Linked DNA regions of Homo sapiens. The protein of the gene in region 1 purifies or fractionates together with the protein of each later gene. This does not show direct contact. Each region holds a gene or a part of one and is shown in the gene's direction. Other genes may lie near its edges. The genes, in order: UBP1, TLE4, MAGEB10, PTPN5, GRHL1 and WDR4.

Region 1 (3,500 bases):
GGTCTGGCATGCGGGGACCGGATGATGATGGTAGTTCGGATTTACTTGAAATGCATTGGGTTGTCACTGAAGTTGTTTAAACAAAGGAGTAGTAATGTGACTAGATTTTTCTTTCACTTTCACAACTCTGTGGAGACAGATGAGAAGGTGGCAAAACGAGGCAGGAGATATCCAGGTGAAAGGTGATGGTATCTTACACGTTTATAGACAGGGTCCCAGTGGGCTCCACTTTTGAGGGAGGAATAGTTCTGACACCTTATTTTCTGTGGAAAGTAACTGGGCAGATGGTGATCTCATTGAAGAGGTAAGTATGGTTGGGGTAAATCAACCAAGAGTTTGATTTTGGATATGTAGAAATGTCAAGTAGGCAGTTGACTATTACCAGTCTGGGGCTCAGAGAAGAGGCCTGGGCTTGAGATGTAAATTTGGAAACCTTCAGCATATCAGCAGTGACTCAAAGCTGTAGAAGTTGTTAAGGTCATTTAGGGAGAGAATATGAAAAGAGCCAGGACCAGGCTTAGGTGGCTCCAACATTAAAGAGGAGGGATTCCTAAATGTAAAATTATTTGAGAAGAGATCATACATTCATAGACTGTTTTAAAAGTCAGGTGAGCTAAGATCCAAATCCGGTCTTAGCACAAAAGCTGCCCCTAGAAGAGGGAGATGTCATGTGTGTCAGGTGTCCCCAGACTACTGAAATACTGATTTTATTTTGCGCCTCACATGTTGCGTATGCCATCAGGTTACCTGCAAGGCTGAGTTTTAACTCTGAACTGGTTCACTCTTTCAGAAACATCTTTAGCCTAGTACCCTTCTGCTCAGTCTTTTGTTTTCACAGCAGTACAGTTTTTACCTTGCATAACTGACATTGTCTGAAAAAGAAGACATATACTATAATTGCATAGTTTTGTTTTGTGAAACCAGCAGACATTTTTTGGTATTAGAAATCATAGGATCTCCCCTCTAATCTCAATTTACTGTTTTGTTTTTTTTTTTAAACTTTGTCGTCATGAGAAAAATCATTTTTTTATGAATGCCTATATTGCTTCTCACTATTTACTGAGAAACACTAGGCAAAAGGAATGATACAGTTTTAAAATGTTTGAAATCTCTGTGAGTAGCTCAGAAATTTTTCTGGAAAAGGTAGATGTACACATTTGCATTTACTCCCTCAGGTCCTCTGCCCTGACACAGTATATTTCACCTGTTCTCCTTCTAGCTCTTGCTCCCCTTATGGACAGCACTATTATTGTGTGTCTTGATAGATGTCCCCCTACCCCCAGAACTGGCAGACAGTGTTGGAATGCGGGCGTTGATAGTGGGCCAGGCTTCGCAGAATGTCTAAAAAGGGAATGTGTACATGAAGTTTTTTGGGGGAAGAGGAGCTAGAGCAAGTTAATCTGCTTGTTTCTCTAGAATCATTTAAAGGTAACCTCTGAATTGGGAAGGGAGGTTGTAGTTGGCAGGGAGTTTTCCATTTAATAGGCTTAATTTCCTAAGCCTGACTGAAGAAATACTGTCTTTCCTTTTTCTGCAGCTGAAAGTAGTGATGGCATCCACATAATTTTGAAGTGATGTCTTATATAGACTGAACTGTATTCAGTACCAAATAGTCACGCTTAAAAGTGTGTGAAGACTGAATCCAAGAAGTCTTGGGATTGGATTTTACCATATGAAATGTTTCATATTGAAAACACAAGATGACCTTTCTAATGAGCTGTATGAGAGGTGAATCTCCTCACTGTCACTGCCATAGCCAAGCATCCTCATGAGAGTGAGCACATCGGCACAGCATGCATCCAGCTCTGGAGGCCACGGTGCAGGCATAGCTGCCTGCTGCTCTGGCAGAGGCCAGTAAATACAGTTCCTAGAAGCAGCCTTTGCTGTCTTTTTACACTGTATGCGGTTTGGAAATGAATGTAGAAACTTACTGTGGGCATTTACCTTTCTGTGCCAGTTTGGCTTTTATTGCCTGAACCTTATGCTGACCTGGAGAGGAGATGGGGGACAGTGCTGTTGTGGGGCCAGCAGTGAATCTGTATGCGGAGAGTTGTGTTGTGCTGATGTGGCCGTTGGTGGTCAGGTAAGAGGCTCGGCACCTTCTTGGAAGAAATCATGTCTGAGGGTGTACGTTTGATATGATCATGCCAGATTGGAGAAGATCCAAGCCAGGAAGATGGGCTTGAAGCAAACTGCATTATCAGGAGTACCTTGGTGAGAGGATCAGTGTAAATCCTAATAGGTACAAAGACTTTTGTGTTTTGGCTTTGTCACAGATTTATTGAAAAACTTTTTTGCTTCTGCTTCCATTTTTAGCATTTTAGTTTCTGGTTTTCATTTTTGGAGATTCCTTGCCTTTTAAACTCGTGGTTTTTCTCTCATTTTCTTCCCTCTCTCCCTCCATCTCTGACCACCCCCACCCTAACCCCCCACCCCCACCATCCTATTAAACATTTTTAAAGCCCTACCCCAGACATTGGAAATAGGTGACCCAAGTAGGGGGAGAAAGTATTATTGTTGATAGCTTCTGACTAGGTGTTAAGGGATCTTCATTATGAACAAGATGAATTTTTTTCTGGAAACACTAGATGTTATCAATCAAACACTAAAATGTACCATACAAATCCCTTAAGCCTCTCAAATATTGAGCTTTAGTACAATCATGGATAGACATTCTGGTGATGATTTAGGGGCTTTTTATACACCACATACTAGCTTCTTTCTCTATAAGAGTGCCTCTTTCATAAAACCAAATGCTTGTCTGCTAGCATACTTTTCAAAGGGAATCCACTGTTTTCTCACTTTCCTCCCATATCTCCGTCCTTCATCCAAAACCTTCCCAGAATCCATCAGCAAGCATGTTTGAGGCCTGTGGTGTAGGGGACTGAATTTTTTTTTTAACTTCTATTCCATTTTAATTGTAGGATATCTTTGTCCATATACCCAGGTGTCCTGATTTGAATGTACTATTTGATCCTCATTGTGTTCAGGCAAAAAATAGGAAATGAGTAATTTTGAGTTTGAAATCTCTCCCAGAAGACAAACTACTTCAGTGAGTAAAAGCTTTGACATTTTATGTTTTATTCATAAAGGGGGTTAATTATTTGCTACAAAGAAGCACGATCTATTTTCATCATCGATTTGAAAATATCTGTAACTCCTATAGATCCTATAGGCAGAGAGTTTTCCTTTCTGACTTTTTCCCTTTGCTTTCGTGTGACCACATGTTTTCTGTACCAGTCACTGGGGAAAGAAGTGAGTTTATCTCGTTTGTTTTAAAAGTTTTGCTTGTCTATTTAGCATTCCTTTTTGGGTCTCAAGATTTATGGAACAATAAATGTCATTTAATGCTGTGTGCTTATTTTGAATTCCTCATCAGGTTTTAGAAGCGGGGTAAAAATACTTAGATGCTTATCAGACTTGAAATTATACTGAGTGGCATTGAACGTGAGTTTGTCCCAGTGAAACAGGCTAAATAAATTTTGGCACCAGCAAATTTG
Region 2 (2,709 bases), on another chromosome or scaffold:
TCTCTACAAAAAAAGTTTGAAAATTAGGTGTGATTGGACACATCAGTGTCGTAGTCCCAGCATCTCAGGAGACTGAGGTGGAAGGATTGCTTGAGCTCAGAAGGTCGAGGCTACAGTGAGCCATGGTCACACCACTGCACTGCAGCCTGAGTGACTGAGGGAGACCCTGTCTTATTAAAAAAAAAAAAAAAAAAAAAAAAAAAAAAAAGCAGCAGTACTGTCCATGACCACCTTTCACCTTTCCTTGACTGGGCTTTCTGTTTGGTCAAGGAGCACATTACATTTGCATTTGCTCTAAGTCCTCCATACTCATGGGATTTTCTTTCAGTATTTAACATTTTTGATTATATGTTTCTTTCCTAGTCCAAAGAATCCTCATCGGTGCTTAGCTGTGACATCTCCGTGGACGACAAATACATTGTCACTGGCTCTGGGGATAAGAAGGCCACAGTTTATGAAGTTATTTATTAAAGACAAATCTTCATGCAGACTGGACTTCTCCTCCTGGTAGCACTTTGCTCTGTCATCCTTTTTGTTCACCCCCATCCCCGCATCTAAAACCAAGGATTTCAGATACTCATTGCAGTTGTGGAGTTTAATCCCCTTTCTTAACCTCACTTCCCACTTGCTATTGAATTGTGAATAGTCATTAAAAACCTGTGATACCAAATCTTCAGCTGTCTACTTGGAAGAACATGGAATAAGCATACTTAACAGTGAAAAGAATCTTTAATTATGTATTATATCTGTAATATATTTATTTTGTTTAAAGAAGGCTTTCTAACAATGACTGACTAAATAAAGCTGTCTGCTCCTGCATTGATAATGAAGGTGCGTTGTATTTGATACCCCTCCCCCCCTTTTTTTGGCAAAGGAGGGGAAAGGAAGGTTTAAAATAATTGATTTAAAATGTCACTAAGTGTAGACTGATGACTGTATAGAGATGTGAAATGTATAATTACACATGGAAGCAATATGTTGCTGTGTTGTTATTAGGTTTTTTTTGTTTTTGTTTTCTACATCTTTTAAAGACTTTTGGAAATTTGGCTGAACAATTAGAACACAACAGGCCAACTCATACTCATTTGGATCTATTTAGACAACGTTAACCAATATATCTATAGCTTTAGATTATATTCGATAAAAGTAATTGGACTTTTTTTCTTTTTTTGACTCGTTGACAAGTGTCTTTGTAATATGTTTTTAGTTCCCTTTTTTTGTTGTATTATAGGCAGATGAACAAATTAAATTTGGCCTCAAAGAGAGAACTTACTCCCTTCTGGATATTTTTGCCACATTTCTTTGCAAAAGGAGATATATATATCTTTAGTCAGTTTTGTTGTTATGAGAAATTATGGGTTATTTTGTGGCATGCTCTTTGGGAGCTGCACAGTTATGGGGAGGACTCCCACTGCTGTGCAAGTTAAGTCTTTTACAAAACAAGGACAGCAGAGGAGGGTTTGCAGAGACCTCCCTCTGAAAAACACAAAGAATGGACTCTCTCCTGGGATGAGGACTTGCTTTCTTTACCTCCGGTTCTTTCCATGTCTTAGTTGGATGTCCCTGAAATGGACACAGGCTGTGCCATTGTGCCAGAAACATTGTGTTATCTTTTATGTTGTTGTTGTTGCTGTTAAACTATAATATGTGACTTCTTTTTTTATTATTTTTTGTTTGAATGCTTTAAAAATCTTTTAAGTCTGTGGATCTGCTGATGTACAGTGCCTTTGCTGCTATGGATCAAAATCAAAAGAACCGTGTAGATATACTTTATTGTATAAGTAGAAAATTACTTAATTTCATACTAGAAATGGATGGATGCTGCAAGTTGAAATGGACTGTCCATTGACGTTCCTAATGTGGTAGCAGAAAAAAAAAAATGGTGTCTTAAGTGCTTAGTGTTTGATGTCATTAACAGTTTCGTAAAACTCTACAGTGTAGAAAGATTTTGATACTAAACTGTGCGTTGTACATAGTTCTAATGCATTGTATTGACCACCAGTACTTCTATAATGGTAGATTGTTTGTGAATTCAGACTTTTAAGCATTAAACATAAATAACTTCTAGTATGCTTATTTTTCTAATTCTTTGTCTTGATGACATTAGTTTATTTTTTATCTTTGGCTGTGCCACTCCTATATATTAAAAATGCCTAGTTTTTTCAAGGGAGATTGTTGTTAAAGTAAAGTGGTTTTTTTTGTTGTTAAAGTAATGTGGGTTTTTTTCACTGTTGCTGTTTTTGTTTTGGTTTTGTCTTTACTTGAGAGGAGCTAGAAAAGGTAGGTGATAGAAGTTAACAGTGACCAGTTGGTGCTAAATATTTATTGAGTACCTCTTTGATTTATAAAAATACTGCTTACCAAAAGGTTATCATGTCCCTCAAACCCTTGATGCTTTAGAGCTATGCTGTTCAATATGGTTACCCTAGGCATTTGTGGCTCTTTAAATTTATTAAAGTTAAATAAAACTAGAAATCTAATTTACCAGTCACACAAACTACATTTCAAGTGTCAAGTAGCCACATGTGGCTAATGGCTACCGTATTGGACTAGACACATCAACACGGGCTTTAAGTTAGCCAATGTAAACCATTGCCAGCCATGTGGATTTGGGAAGCATTTCTAGCATAACACACTGAGGTCTTTACACCAGGCTTCTTGGGCTGCTACTGGTTGGGTGTATGAAGATTCAGTATAAAGAGGAGTTTA
Region 3 (3,500 bases), on another chromosome or scaffold:
CTAAGCGGCATTTTTGGTTGATTTGTGTGCTGTATCATAGAGTGCTGCATATTTTCGGACATCTCTTGCTTTAAAAACAATCACAGAGATTTCAATAGGGCCTGGGGTCAAACTAATAATAGTAACAAACGCTAGTTATTAAATATGCAATAAATAATAGGCACTTTTCCCAGAGTTTTCATACATTACATACAACCCAGAAATCCTACAAGGCAAGGCTTATCAAGGTCACTTCACAAAAAGCCTGAGCCTCATAGAGCTTTGCAATTTTCCTGACTTCACGTGGTTCATTAAGTGTCAAAATTAGAACCATAGTCTGAATTTGTTTAGAACCCACACTGTTGCACTCCTTCCTGCATGAAGCACATGTCTGTCTTTTAATTCATTTCTCTTCTCACTACTGCACTGTGTCTCTAGGCAATAAAAAGAAGGAACCTGGGGCCAGTGTACTAAATCCAGATGTAATAAATAATGGAGAAAATGAGAATTGAACACCATTTGGGGACTGCCCGTGGGCCTCATTTTCGTAGGGTCCATCCACCCCTAGCTCCAGGGTTCTTTGGGAGCTGATTTTGCCCAGGTGCTGGCACCTGGGACCAGATCCAGCACTTCCCAAATTACACTGTTCTTTCCTTGAGTCAGCCCCTGTGAGTCCTTGTGCCCAAATCTGGATCCTTACCTGCTGTCCAGCTCTTCCCTGCTTCCTTCCATGAAGGCTGCACCCTGCTCCCTATGGGAAAGAAAGCCCAGAATAACTTTCCTTCCTTTCTCCTGACTTAGAGCTTTCCAACTCCCTGCAGATGTCCTCTGTTTTGTCACATCACTCACTTGGAACTTCTCTGATAACAGCCCCTTCCATGTAATTGTTTACTTTGGCAGTGAACACTACATACCTGCTCATCTGCTCTGAGTAATTCCACCACACTCAAGATTTTTTCCAAGTCTGCCTGTGAGTCAGGTCAGACTTGGAACAGAATCTAACCTTGAAAGATAACTCTGAAGTTAGAGAGGAGGTGTAGAAAGCAGATGAAGTTAGAAAGAGAGGAGAATGTAATCTGGTGACTTATTTGAGACTAGCACTGAATCCATACACTAGTGAGCTTAAGTGAATGGTGAAAATATCGAAGCCTCTGTCTCAAGTGGTGGATAAGGAAGGACCTAGGAAATAACTGTGTATCAACCATGTCCAGAAATTGGATTCCTATAAATCCTGGTGTACTAGGAGCATGTAGTAGATTTCTATGCTGACATAACAAATGCCATACAGTAAGACACTTAAAATAACATATTGATTAGATCACCCTTCTGTAGGTGAGAAGTATGGGTTGGTTCTGCTGGTTTCTTTGCTTAGGGTTACACAGGCCCAAATCAAGCTGTCAAAGCCTGGCTTCTTATTGGGACACACTGTGAAGAATCCCATTTCAGGCTTATTCAGGTCATTATATGAGGAACCCAGTTCTTTGTGGTTGTAAGAAGAGTGAGGAGTAAGTCTCCTTTCAGGCTATCAGTTGGAGCTGCCATATTTTCTCCAGGCCTGTGTCCAGTCTTTGCATGTGGGCCTCTACTTTTGAGTCAGACTTGGGACATTGAACCTGTCTCACGCTTGGAATTTCTCTAACTTCTGTCTCTGCTGCATATCTCTTCTGCCTCCAGGTGGAGAAACTTCTCTGCTTGTAAGGGCTCATCTAATTAGATTTGGCCCATGTAGGCAATCCAGTGTAATCTCTCTATTTTCAGGTCGGTTTCATAATTTTAATTATATTTGCAAAGTGCCTTTGGCCATGTAACATAACATATTCATGGGTTTCAGGAATGAGGATATGTGAATCTTCGTGGAGCAATTATTCAGTCTACCACAGAGGTAGAATATGTCTCTCTGGCAGACATGCCAGCTTTGATAAGAAAAGAAAAACCATAATTCGCCATCATTCTCCTGATTCTTGTCTGTATCTGCGCCAAGGGAAAATCCTGGTTTTTCATTGCGCCTAAGGGCACCTGTACATGTGCTCAGGTGTACATGTTCATCAGGTGGTGGGTAGCAGGACTCACAAGTTACGTTTTTAACAATACATCAAAAGAAGGAAGAAATTTTTCAGTCTCTTGAGATTATAGAGGTCATTGAAAAGGTCAGTGCAGAAAGGTGTTATTGAGTGCAGCGGGGTGAACCCTCCTTGCTGAGATTTACAGGATCGTTTTGAAAATTAGTGTGATTCTGGATTTGAAATTACCTGTCACATATAGACACTAGAAAATGTTGTTGTTTAGCAAAGATATTTGATATTCTCAGAAACTCCTCCAAGACTTAAGAAGGGTGTTTTCATAACAAATTTATAGTAGTAGCTTTTATTGAGCTTTTACTATTATAATAGTTAATTGGACAGACTGCAAGTGCTCATCCACTTTGTGTCTTGCTTTCTATCCTTGGTTCATATGGAGACTACATTGCCAGTCCACTTGTAGTTTGGAAAGGTCATGTGACTACCCCCCTTGACACTGAAATATGAACAGTAGCATGCTTTTCCCTTTCAGATCAAAGTGTTTGAGAGCCAGTCTGCCACCTCCATGCCTTCTCTTCCATGCTGAGATATGGAGCCACAGTATAGAAGCAGCATGGATCCCTGGGACACCTGACAGCAAAAAATCCCTATTAATTAATATCAAAGTTTATTTGCATAAGAGATAAACCTTTAGTGTGTTAAGCCATTGAGATTTCAGCCTTTTGCCATTACATCTCATACATACTTTATCTGTACAATACACAACTACTAATTCCATTGTTATTATTATTTAAATATTTTAATTACCAAGAAAATAGTGTATGTATTCTTGTTGCCAAAAATTCTAATACAGATAAATCAAAATTTCGCTTCCTTACTATGTCCCTCCAAAATTCAATACCTCCTCATATGTAACCACATTTTTTAAATCCTGCATGTAGTATTTTTAAATGTATTATAGGCTTTCTCTTATATACATGTGCAACAAAAATACACTGTGAGGGTTTTTTTGCTTTTGTTTGCTCCTTTTTCTTCTTAATTTTTATTTACTTATTTATTTCTTTTAGAGACGGTGCCTCGCTCTGTTGCCCAGACTGGAGTGCAGTGGTGTGATCATAACTCAGTATAGCCTAGAACTCCTGAGCTCAAGCAATCCTCCCACCTCAGCCTTTCAAGCAGCTAGGAGTACAGTTGGGAGCCACTGTACCTGGTTACTGTGAGTTTTAAATATACATTGATAACTGTTTACATATTGCTCCACAATATGCCTTAGAATTTTGATATTTCAATAACACATTTCTCTTTACTTTGAGAAGAAAGGATTTACTCAGAATGACAAGGTTCCAGGAAATGTGCCTTAACAAGAAAACCTCAATTAGTGAAGGACATCAGGAAAACTGGGCACTGGAACAATTTCCAGAATCCACGAGAGAGATCATAAGCTAAACAAAGTCCAGAGAACTCAGGGCACGGGGTAGTCAGGGATCTGTATCCAGAGTTCAG
Region 4 (2,685 bases), on another chromosome or scaffold:
TTGCCCTTGTGTATCTCTCCGCTGGCCCTGAAGAGAGTGTAGAGAGTTGTGGGAAGGGAACAGGATTGTATGGCAGCCTGATCTGGGCCCCTGCAGAAATGCACCGAGTATTGGCCGGAGGAGCAGGTGGCGTACGACGGTGTTGAGATCACTGTGCAGAAAGTCATTCACACGGAGGATTACCGGCTGCGACTCATCTCCCTCAAGGTGAGGCCTGGGGCAGGGCTGGGTGAAGCTGAGGATGAGTGTAGGGGCTTAACTGGGGGCTCCACAGAGAACAGGTCCCCCAAGTCCACTGTAACTGACATAAAAGCCAGTGTCACTCCCAGATTTTCTGATAATTACGGATGAGTGAGAGGTGAATGGACTTGGGAGCCAGAGGTAGAATCAAACCCCTTGCATTTCCCAGTCCTCAGTTACATTTCATGCTGTTGGGCTCTCTCTGTCTCTCTACTCTGTCATTCATAATGCATTCTAGCTATGCTTCAAATGTACCCAAGGCCAGGACTGTCTGGATGAGGGGACTTCAGCAGCCTCCAGCACTGTGCTTATAATTGAGGGTTCATCATGACTTTGAGATCCTCCTTAGAAACATCTCTTCACCTGGGATCCTGGGCTTCTGGCCTGTAGTGCCCAATCTGTCCACAAGAGGGCAGGCACTCTTTGCTGCTTTGGGGTTGTACAGGGGGCTGTGGTTACAGAAAACAGCAAGAAAAAGGAAGACACACAAAATATGAGCAATACAAAACAGCCCAGAAGAGTGGGAGAAGGTATCCTCCCACCCTGAAGTTGTGCTTCCTCCAGGATCAGCATAATAGAGGAGACTGTTCCTTTGAAATCGGGATTAGTGGATTCTGTTTGTGAGAAATAAGACCCATGTTTAGGGAAGGCTGTAATTGTAATAACCCCAAAGGCTGGAAGAGGTGAACCAGGCATCAGGAAGCTGATGCCCTATCCAGGAGCAGCCAAGGAAGTTCATTGATGCTGACAGCCACAGGGGTTACTGAGCACAAGACCGGAGACTTGGCCCTCTGAGCTGTTCCCTCTCCCACTGAATAGGGGCCAGGTAGGGTGTCGAGAGCATCTCAGCCCCCAAGAGCAGTGCCCCCACAAGCAGCTCTAAGATCCAGGTCTTGTTGGAGGGCATGAAGGGCCAGGAAGTGAAAAGCAGAAGTAGTGGTCACTGTCACAGCCAGGTAACTCAGGACTTGAGAAAATGGCTTCCTGAGTAGAAATTCCCCAGAAAGACAGGCTGAGATGAGGCAGGGCTGCTCACCTTCTCAATGCCATGGAGATGATGAGGGAAGAACCAGGGCATCTTGGAGTTTGAGGGAATTTACTTTTGTCCATAAGACATTACGAGCACCTGGCCTGAGCTTGGTTCTGGGTTGGATACTGTGAACACAGAGCTTCCCAAAGCTTGGACTCTTTCCTTGAGAAGCATTGTATAAGATGGTAAGTACTGAGCTAGAGATAGGTATATAGAATATAGGATATGTATATCATATGATGTTATATTGGATGAATATAGGATATGTATATCATATATGTATGTATATATGATATACATATCCTATTATACCTATATATAAAATATATATAATATAAATATATAATATATAAAATATATATAAAATATAAATATATATATAGGTGTGTGTGTATATATATATGTATAAAAGAAGGACACTCTGCCAGCTGATGTGCTCAGGGAGGGCTTCCTGTACATGGTGGTGCTGAATGGGGTCTTGAAGGATAAGTAAGAGTTGACCAGGGGCAAACAAGTCAGGAGAACATTCCCAGTGAGAAAATAATAAAAGTAAGGACATGGAAGATGGAACACTTGTGTGCATGTATGTGTGCACATGTGTTTGTGTGTGCTGCTGAGATTTTACCTACAAACCTTTTGGAGTGTGGGAGCATTGAGTACAAGTACGCAGGGGCAGGAGGTGTGTCTGGAAGGGCAGGCCCTGTAGCAGTTGTCTTCCTAGCCAGGTGAAGGACTGAGGAGAGTGGGTCTTATTCTGAGAGCAGTGAGAGACATTGAAGGATGTTGTGGTCTGCTCAGGCTGCTATAACAAAATACCATAGACCAGGTAGCTTGTAAGCAACAGGTTTATTTTTCACAGTTCTGGAGACTGGGAAGTCCAAGATCAAGGCACCGTGACCCTGGTGAGGACCCACTTCCAGGGTCATGTCCTCACGTGGCAGAAGGAGTGAAAGCTCCTTTTGTAAGAGCACTGATCCCATTCGTGAGGGCTCCGTTCTCATGACTTCATCACCTCGCAAAGGCCCTCCCTTCAAATACCACCATGTTGGGATTTGGTTTCAACATGTGAACTTAAGGGGACACACACATTCAGTCCAAAGCCACAGGTTTTCAGCAGGAGAGCAGCATGTCCAGATGTGTGTTGTACACAGACTATTTTGACTCTGTGGATCTGAGACAGTTGGGGATGAGGCAGAAATCTCCCACACTCGAGCAATGATAAAGGTCAAGGTGGCAGTGAAGCGGGGAGTGTGAAGAGGTGGTAAAACTTGCAGCACTAATTGCAGCACTAAGATAGAGGCGAGTCACGCAGGCGCAGGCGAGGCACAGCAAGAGGCGAAGAAGAGTCCCGGGGCTGGGTTATGTGACAAAGGGATGACTGGGGGACCATTTGTTAAGATAAGGAACCCTGGAGA
Region 5 (3,043 bases), on another chromosome or scaffold:
CAGTGGCTAGCATAAGAATTTTTTGGCTTAGTTTTAAAACAAATTCTAATGGGAAATTTCTAGATGGTTCTAGTGGAAAGAGTTGGACTTAATAGTAGTTAATTTATTTTTGTTTATTTTCTTGTTTTTGTATTCTTTATTTTTTGTTTGATAATAGTAGTTCATTTAAACTTTGAGGCTCACTTGCTGGAGTGTGTAATTTGTCAGGGGGCTGTGACTTCACATCATGTAAGTTAGTGTTATTGATGTGCTTTTGCTTTATTCATTTAGAGATGGTTTCACTCTATCGCCCAGGCTGGAGTACAGTGGTGCAATCAGAGCTCACTGTAGCCTTGAACTCCTGGGCTCAGGCCATCCTTTCACCTCAGCTTCCCAAGTAGCAGGGACTACAGGCATGTACCACCATGTCCAGCTAGTTTTTAAAATTTTTCTGTAGAAATGGGATCTTGCTATGTTATCCAGGCTGGTCTCAAACTCTTGGGCTCAAGTGATTCTCCTGCCTCAGCGTCCCAAAGTGCTGGCATCACAGGTATGAGCCAAGTACCATTTACCAAGTGACAACTATGAAATACATGCTGGAAATAATAATCATAAATAAGCCAGTATATTTCATTTTCCAAATGCTATGATATAAATATATCACCTGATTTCCTCCTAACTCAATTCTCTCAGCAATCCTATAAGATGGGTACTATTATTATCCCCATTTTATAGATGAGGAAGTTGAGGCTTAAGGAGATTTAAATAATTTGCCTCACATGCTGCAACTAGTAAGTGGGAGAGCTAACAGGTCAATCTAGGTCTGACTCCAGGACCAAGTGGCAGTGAAGTTGGTTGGTCTTGTCCCCCCCCATCCAGGATCCTGGTGAACATGGACGACAACATTGTGAAGCATTACTCCAATGAGGACACCTTCCAGCTGCAGATTGAAGAAGCCGGGGGGTCTTACAAGCTCACCCTGACGGAGATCTAAAGGCCTGCGGGCCACAGCTCCCCAGGAGTTCAGTGCAGGTGTTTCTAGATCTTACGGTTTGGCAACTGCAGGTAACCCCAGTCAGCCATGTCGCCAGCACAGGTCTATGTCGAGGGAATGGGTTCCTTGCAGGTTGGAGGCGGGGCTGCATCTGGCTTGGTGGTAGCATTTAATCTATTGCATTGGTGTTTTTCAGATGAAAGAGAAATCCATATACCATTATGTTTGAATTTCCTGATATATACAGGATTTAAAGTGAAAACTTTATTCCAAGAGTTAACAGAGTCTCTGGGAAGCTTTAGGACATCTGCTACGTTATTTATCAAAATATTGGGATCTCTGCCTTGTGCCTACAGTGTCGTGGGCCTGCTCGCTAGCAGAAGTCAGAAAAGGCGATAGGCTTGGCTTTAAGGATTTCGTGCCCTTGCCTGAATTCAGTACAACTCCACTGCCTCACGTTAGCGGGAGCGCACCTGAAGAGTACGGGGGGAGCCCTCTCTCCCTTACCCTCTCACTCTCCACCAGATGTTTACTAAACAGGGCATGTTACTGAAATCTTCCTTTGCGACTTTCTCGGACATATCAACTGCCTTTCTCATGAAGAATTTTAATGGGTTACAGTATGAAATCAGTTAAGATAAAGCTGCATTGTATATAAGTGCAATATATTTTTGAAGGTCTGTAAATGTGTACATACATGTCTTATATAAATATATAATATATAAATATGGTGTCTGTGTACATATAGTGAAGATATGCAGTAAGAGCTACCTTAAAGACTTTCCCTAGACAAAGGTTAAGTTATTTTTTGATCGTGTATACCAAGCAGATAGAATACTGTGCTTAGTGGAACCCGCTAAAAACCTTTTTCTCTGTTTTTCCAAACACAGGCATTCTGTAGCATAGCAAAACCTTCTCAAATGACAGAGATTCTGTTTGCTGTTGAGAATGTTGTTATTTGGATTTCTGCACTGTTTAACAAATGAAGTAAAAGAAAAACACTACTGCAATCACGTCTTTTGTTATGCTAGTATCAGTCAGATGCACTTAGAGTGAAGAAACACTGTAATTACAGCACACAGATTGCAAGTATTGCGTACCAAGTGATACAACTCGAAATGCAGTTCTCATCTTCCTGTTTTGAGAAATGATTATTTTATCACGCATCAGAGCCTTCGTGCTTTGATTATCTTGTATGTTAACAATTCTAGAAAACATTCATGAATTCACAAAAATATGTTACTATGGCAGGGGAACATTTTGTACACATTTAAGTATATAAAAATACTAAAATATGTAATTTTATAACAAAGTCACGGGTATCTTTAGGTTCAGGGAACTAGACTAGGTCATTCGTGTAAATGGACTGGTAGTTACAGTCTTAGGTTAAAGTATTCTAATGAAGTATGGGAACTAAATTGCTGGTTTTCTAAGATAAGATATGGGATATGGGTCATATAACTTTTGTATTTTTTATGAAGTTGATTTTGTCTTGCGTGTTATTTTTAATTGTATCATTGAAGATGTATTTTAAACCAAAGGAATTAAATTTTATATGTCTATTTCGTAATATGTCATTTCCTGTTTTTCAATTTGACTTTGCACTGCTCAGTAAAACGTGAGAGCTGAAAAGCATCTCATTGCTAGCACTTTCTGCTTATTTCTTAATGTGTGCGCTTAGGTTGTTTTCTTCATGTTAACTTTTCCTTACTGATGCCTGAAATGATCCACGTAATTGTTAAGTCAGGGATCCCTGAATGATTTTCCAATTCTTACCAAAATTTAACCACTAAAGCTGAAGGTAAATGCTTTCATACCTAAAATCTTAGTATTCTTAGTGTTTAAAAGCCTAACAGAAAATACTTAGTTTAAAAATTTACCAATATTTAAATCATTAGAATCTCTAAAACAGGCGTCCTGAACATATTCCAGGGTAATCCAGGGCCTAAATATGATAGACACTAGGATATATTTTTAATGGATACAAGATCAGATTAATGACGTAAACTCCCTGATAGGGCTCCTGGGACATCTGCACTTTTCACAGTAACCCTCGGGCCAAAGTGGAGA
Region 6 (3,407 bases), on another chromosome or scaffold:
GTGTGTCCCCATCCAGAAGGCGGGGCAGGGCAGGAGGTGGGTGACGCACAGCAGAAGAAGGAGCCCCCCATGGGAGTCAGGCTAACGAGAGCCACTTAGGAACCGGGGGCTCAGGGTCTGAGCACCTGCCTTCAGAGTTGGGCGTTGAAGGTCCCCAGGGCAGGGCTGGCAGCTGGTGGCTCCCAGAGGGAGCTGGTGCTGTGCTGCCTCATGCCTGGTCCATGGTGTTGAGGGAATTGATCCCACTGCAGTGGGCGTCAGTAAGTGCAGGGCCTCACTGGGAGGTTTAGTGGGGGTCTAGCCAGAGGCCCCGGGGGTCTTCAGGAGGCTGAGCAGGGGCAGGATGGTCACTGTCCTGACAGGAACACTCAGCTGAGGGGAGGGAATCTAGCCAGCAACTCCCGTGGCTGCGGCTGCAGGAAGGAGAGCAGCCAGGCTGAGGGAGGAGCTGGACGAACATTTTCTACCCTGCCTTCTGGGGACACGACACACTGTAGTTCTGGGTGCGTCGTTGTGCCAGCACCTTGCAGTCTTGGAGGTGATGGTGTCTGCAGGATGGATTAGCCCAGCATGGAATCCAGGTGCCTCATTCACGACAAGAAGTTGCTGCTCTGAAGTCTTGCAAAGCTAAACCCCACTGCAGTGAGCACTGAGGTTCCTTGGAGCTCTGGAGGGATTCACACTGAGGTCGGAGGAGTTTCCGCTGATTGGGGCCCAGCCGCCTTCTGCCAGGCTCCCCGAGTGGCGGCACGCTGGCTCTGCCTCTGAGGCTTCTCTCCCTCCTGCTTTGCTTAGGATGTTGAGGGTTGAGACGGGCAGGGTTGGGCCCCCCAGCGTGGTTGGGATCTGCTTTAGGAACACTTCAGAGTGGGCCTGTCACTGGCTGTGTCAGGGACTGCAGGCGGCAGTGCTCATGGCCGGGCATCTGCAGTGCTCATGGCCCCCGTGCTCTAGGCCACGGACAGCATAGACCTGTTGAGTGTCACCTTGCACAACAGTCTCAGGCCAAAGCCTGGGCTCGCTCTCCTGAGATGTTCCATAGATAGAGCAGCCTGTTCCCGGCGCAGACTTGGGGGCCTGCGTTGGGAGAGGGACCGGGGAGGGCTGCTGCTAGAGTGTCCCACAAGCAGCAGAGTCGCTGGAGGGGCGGGGAGGCTGCGCCACCTGCTGGATGGGCAGGCTTCAGGCAGTCGCTGGTGCGCGGGTTACCGGCTGGGCCTGTGGTTTCCTGGCCAGGCTGAGGCTGTCTCCGTGTGCCTGTGGTCAGTCATTGCCCCCAATCCTTGGCACTTAGATAAAGTAGATGAAATCCGTGTCCATTCCCTGTGGCGGCAGAACATGCTATCCCACACTCGATGCCTTAAGGCACCCCACCCTTACTGTCTCACTGTTGCTGTGGGTCAGGGGTCCGGACTCAGCTGAGCTGTGTCTCTGCAGGTGGCCATCTCAGCTTCACCAGGCAGGGCCCGACTTCACTCAGTCTGGGTTGTCGGCAGGACAGGGGGCCTCTCTGGCTGTTGGCCAGAGGCTGCTGCTCCTGGTCCCCTGCCACCTGGGCCCCTCCACAGGGCGGCTCATGGTGCAGTAGTGGCTTTCTCCGGGCGTGCAAGCAGAGAGTGCTGGCGGGGTGGAGGCCCAGCCTTGGTGCCCTGGTTTCCATTACATTCTTTCATCTTTGCCCCGTTCTGTTAGTAGCCAGTCCTCAGGTCCAGCCAGGGTGTGGGTCCCAGGAGGTGGGCACCGTGGGGAGCCGTCCCAGAAGGCGCCCCCCACGGTCCACCGAGGACTCTGGGAGTCACGAGGTAACTCCCTGCTGCAGGGGGCCCGCTGTGGTGGCCGAGTCCCATGTTCCTGCCCCACCTGGCACCTGTCCTTGTTCCCCCATCACAGGCTCTGCCGGCGCAGACGCCAGCTTCAGCAGTCTCTACAAGGCCACGTTCGACAACGTGACCTCCTACCTGAAGAAGAAAGAGGAGAGACTGCAGCAGCAGCTAGAGAAGAAGCAGCGGCGCCGGAGTCCCCCGCCTGGGCCCGACGGGCATGCCAAGAAGATGAGACCGGGGGAGGCGACGCTAAGTTGCTGATCGTGGCGGTCAGTGGTGTCTCTCACCTCAAATTAGGAAAAGCTTTTTAACTTGTTCCCCTGCATCCTGGCATGTCCCTTCAAGAAGGAAAAGGTGACATCAGTTGTGACCAGCTCAGAGGATGGGGCTGTCCCCTGGGCTCTAGAAAGAACATTCTGTGTCACCAGCACAGGCTCTTGCTGGGTGCCTGTGCCCCCTTTCTGGTTGAAGGGAAGCCAGACCAGTGGAGTGGAAGCTCTTGAAGCACTTTCTTTTCATGTCGGAGGCTGCGTGTGAGCCGGTGGTGGCGGCAGCTGTCTGTGTTTCTCCTGTTCTCATACCGCCCTTCGTGTCCGCTGCATCTTCCTCTAGGAGCATCTGTGGGCTGACGTTTCTGGCATGGTGGATGTTTTCATGTTGTTCCGCCGTCTCAGCATCCAGGTGACGTGCTGTCCCGCAGTAGCTGCTCGCCACACAGGCTGTTGAAACTCAGCACGAATGCTTGAGCCTGCCCCAGCCCCAGCCGTAGCCCTTGTGCTCAGGAGCTGCTCCTGGAGAGTGGCTCCCTTGTGGGAAGTGAGAAACACGTTTCGGAGTCGCAGGGAGCTCTGTCTGGCATCGGTGGCACAGATGGTGAACTTGTTTCAGGAAGTGTGAGCACGGGCCTGGCTGGCACCCGGTTTACAGGGAGGTGATTGAGGACGTCGTTATGATTTGATTTGACCTTGGCACACACTGCAGAGCCACAGGGATGTTGCTGAATTTCAATCACCGATCAGCAAGGATGAACCTTCTCAACTTCCTAGGAATGTTTAGCAGCAACCGAATATACCAGGCAAAACTCCTTGGTGCCTGCGCTGTGTGTGTGTGAGGTGCGCGGTGTGATTGTGCGCTGTGTGTGTGTGAGGTGCACGCTGCGTGATCGTGTGCTGTGTGAGGTGCGCGCCGCGTGATCGTGCGCTGTGTGTGTGTGTGAGGTGCGTGGTGTGATCGTGCGCTGTGTGTGTGGTGCACGCCGCGTGATCGTGCGCTGTGTGTGTGAGGTGCGCGGTGTGATCGTGCGCTGTGTGTGAGGTGCACGCTGCGTGATCGTGTGCTGTGAGTGAGGTGCGCGCCGCGTGATCGTGTGCTGTGTGAGGTGCGCGCCGCGTGATCGTGTGCTGTGTGAGGTGTGCGCCGCGTGATCGTGCGCTGTGTGTGTGAGGTGCGCGGTGTGATCGTGTGCTGTGAGTGAGGTGCGCGCCGCGTGATCGTGTGCTGTGTGAGGTGCGCGCCGCGTGATCGTGTGCTGTGTGAGGTGCGCGCCGCGTGATCGTGTGCTGTGTGAGGTGCGCGCCGTGTGAT

Evidence for each region.
Region 2: the proteins of UBP1 (region 1) and TLE4 purify together in Homo sapiens (affinity purification with mass spectrometry; one large-scale study listed by BioGRID and IntAct). This does not show direct contact.
Region 3: the proteins of UBP1 (region 1) and MAGEB10 purify together in Homo sapiens (affinity purification with mass spectrometry; one large-scale study listed by BioGRID and IntAct). This does not show direct contact.
Region 4: the proteins of UBP1 (region 1) and PTPN5 purify together in Homo sapiens (affinity purification with mass spectrometry; one large-scale study listed by BioGRID and IntAct). This does not show direct contact.
Region 5: the proteins of UBP1 (region 1) and GRHL1 purify together in Homo sapiens (co-immunoprecipitation; one large-scale study listed by IntAct). This does not show direct contact.
Region 6: the proteins of UBP1 (region 1) and WDR4 fractionate together in Homo sapiens (co-fractionation; one large-scale study listed by BioGRID). This does not show direct contact.

Annotation. Positions count from the first base shown.
Region 1 is NC_000003.12:33,388,406-33,391,905, reverse strand, and holds part of UBP1 (upstream-binding protein 1), read left to right. Parts: intron 1-1,537; coding exon 1,538-1,575; 3' UTR 1,576-3,500. UniProt on the Homo sapiens protein: Functions as a transcriptional activator in a promoter context-dependent manner. Modulates the placental expression of CYP11A1. Involved in regulation of the alpha-globin gene in erythroid cells.
Region 2 is NC_000009.12:79,724,674-79,727,382, forward strand, and holds the end of TLE4 (transducin-like enhancer protein 4), read left to right. Parts: intron 1-363; coding exon 364-471; 3' UTR 472-2,209; downstream 2,210-2,709. UniProt on the Homo sapiens protein: Transcriptional corepressor that binds to a number of transcription factors. Inhibits the transcriptional activation mediated by PAX5, and by CTNNB1 and TCF family members in Wnt signaling.
Region 3 is NC_000023.11:27,814,490-27,817,989, forward strand, and holds part of MAGEB10 (melanoma-associated antigen B10), read left to right. Parts: intron 1-3,064; 5' UTR 3,065-3,213; intron 3,214-3,500.
Region 4 is NC_000011.10:18,730,114-18,732,798, reverse strand, and holds part of PTPN5 (tyrosine-protein phosphatase non-receptor type 5), read left to right. Parts: intron 1-96; coding exon 97-207; intron 208-2,685. UniProt on the Homo sapiens protein: May regulate the activity of several effector molecules involved in synaptic plasticity and neuronal cell survival, including MAPKs, Src family kinases and NMDA receptors.
Region 5 is NC_000002.12:9,999,735-10,002,777, forward strand, and holds the end of GRHL1 (grainyhead-like protein 1 homolog), read left to right. Parts: intron 1-858; coding exon 859-973; 3' UTR 974-2,543; downstream 2,544-3,043. UniProt on the Homo sapiens protein: Transcription factor involved in epithelial development. Binds directly to the consensus DNA sequence 5'-AACCGGTT-3'.
Region 6 is NC_000021.9:42,848,726-42,852,132, reverse strand, and holds the end of WDR4 (tRNA (guanine-N(7)-)-methyltransferase non-catalytic subunit WDR4), read left to right. Parts: intron 1-1,890; coding exon 1,891-2,084; 3' UTR 2,085-2,907; downstream 2,908-3,407. UniProt on the Homo sapiens protein: Non-catalytic component of the METTL1-WDR4 methyltransferase complex required for the formation of N(7)-methylguanine in a subset of RNA species, such as tRNAs, mRNAs and microRNAs (miRNAs).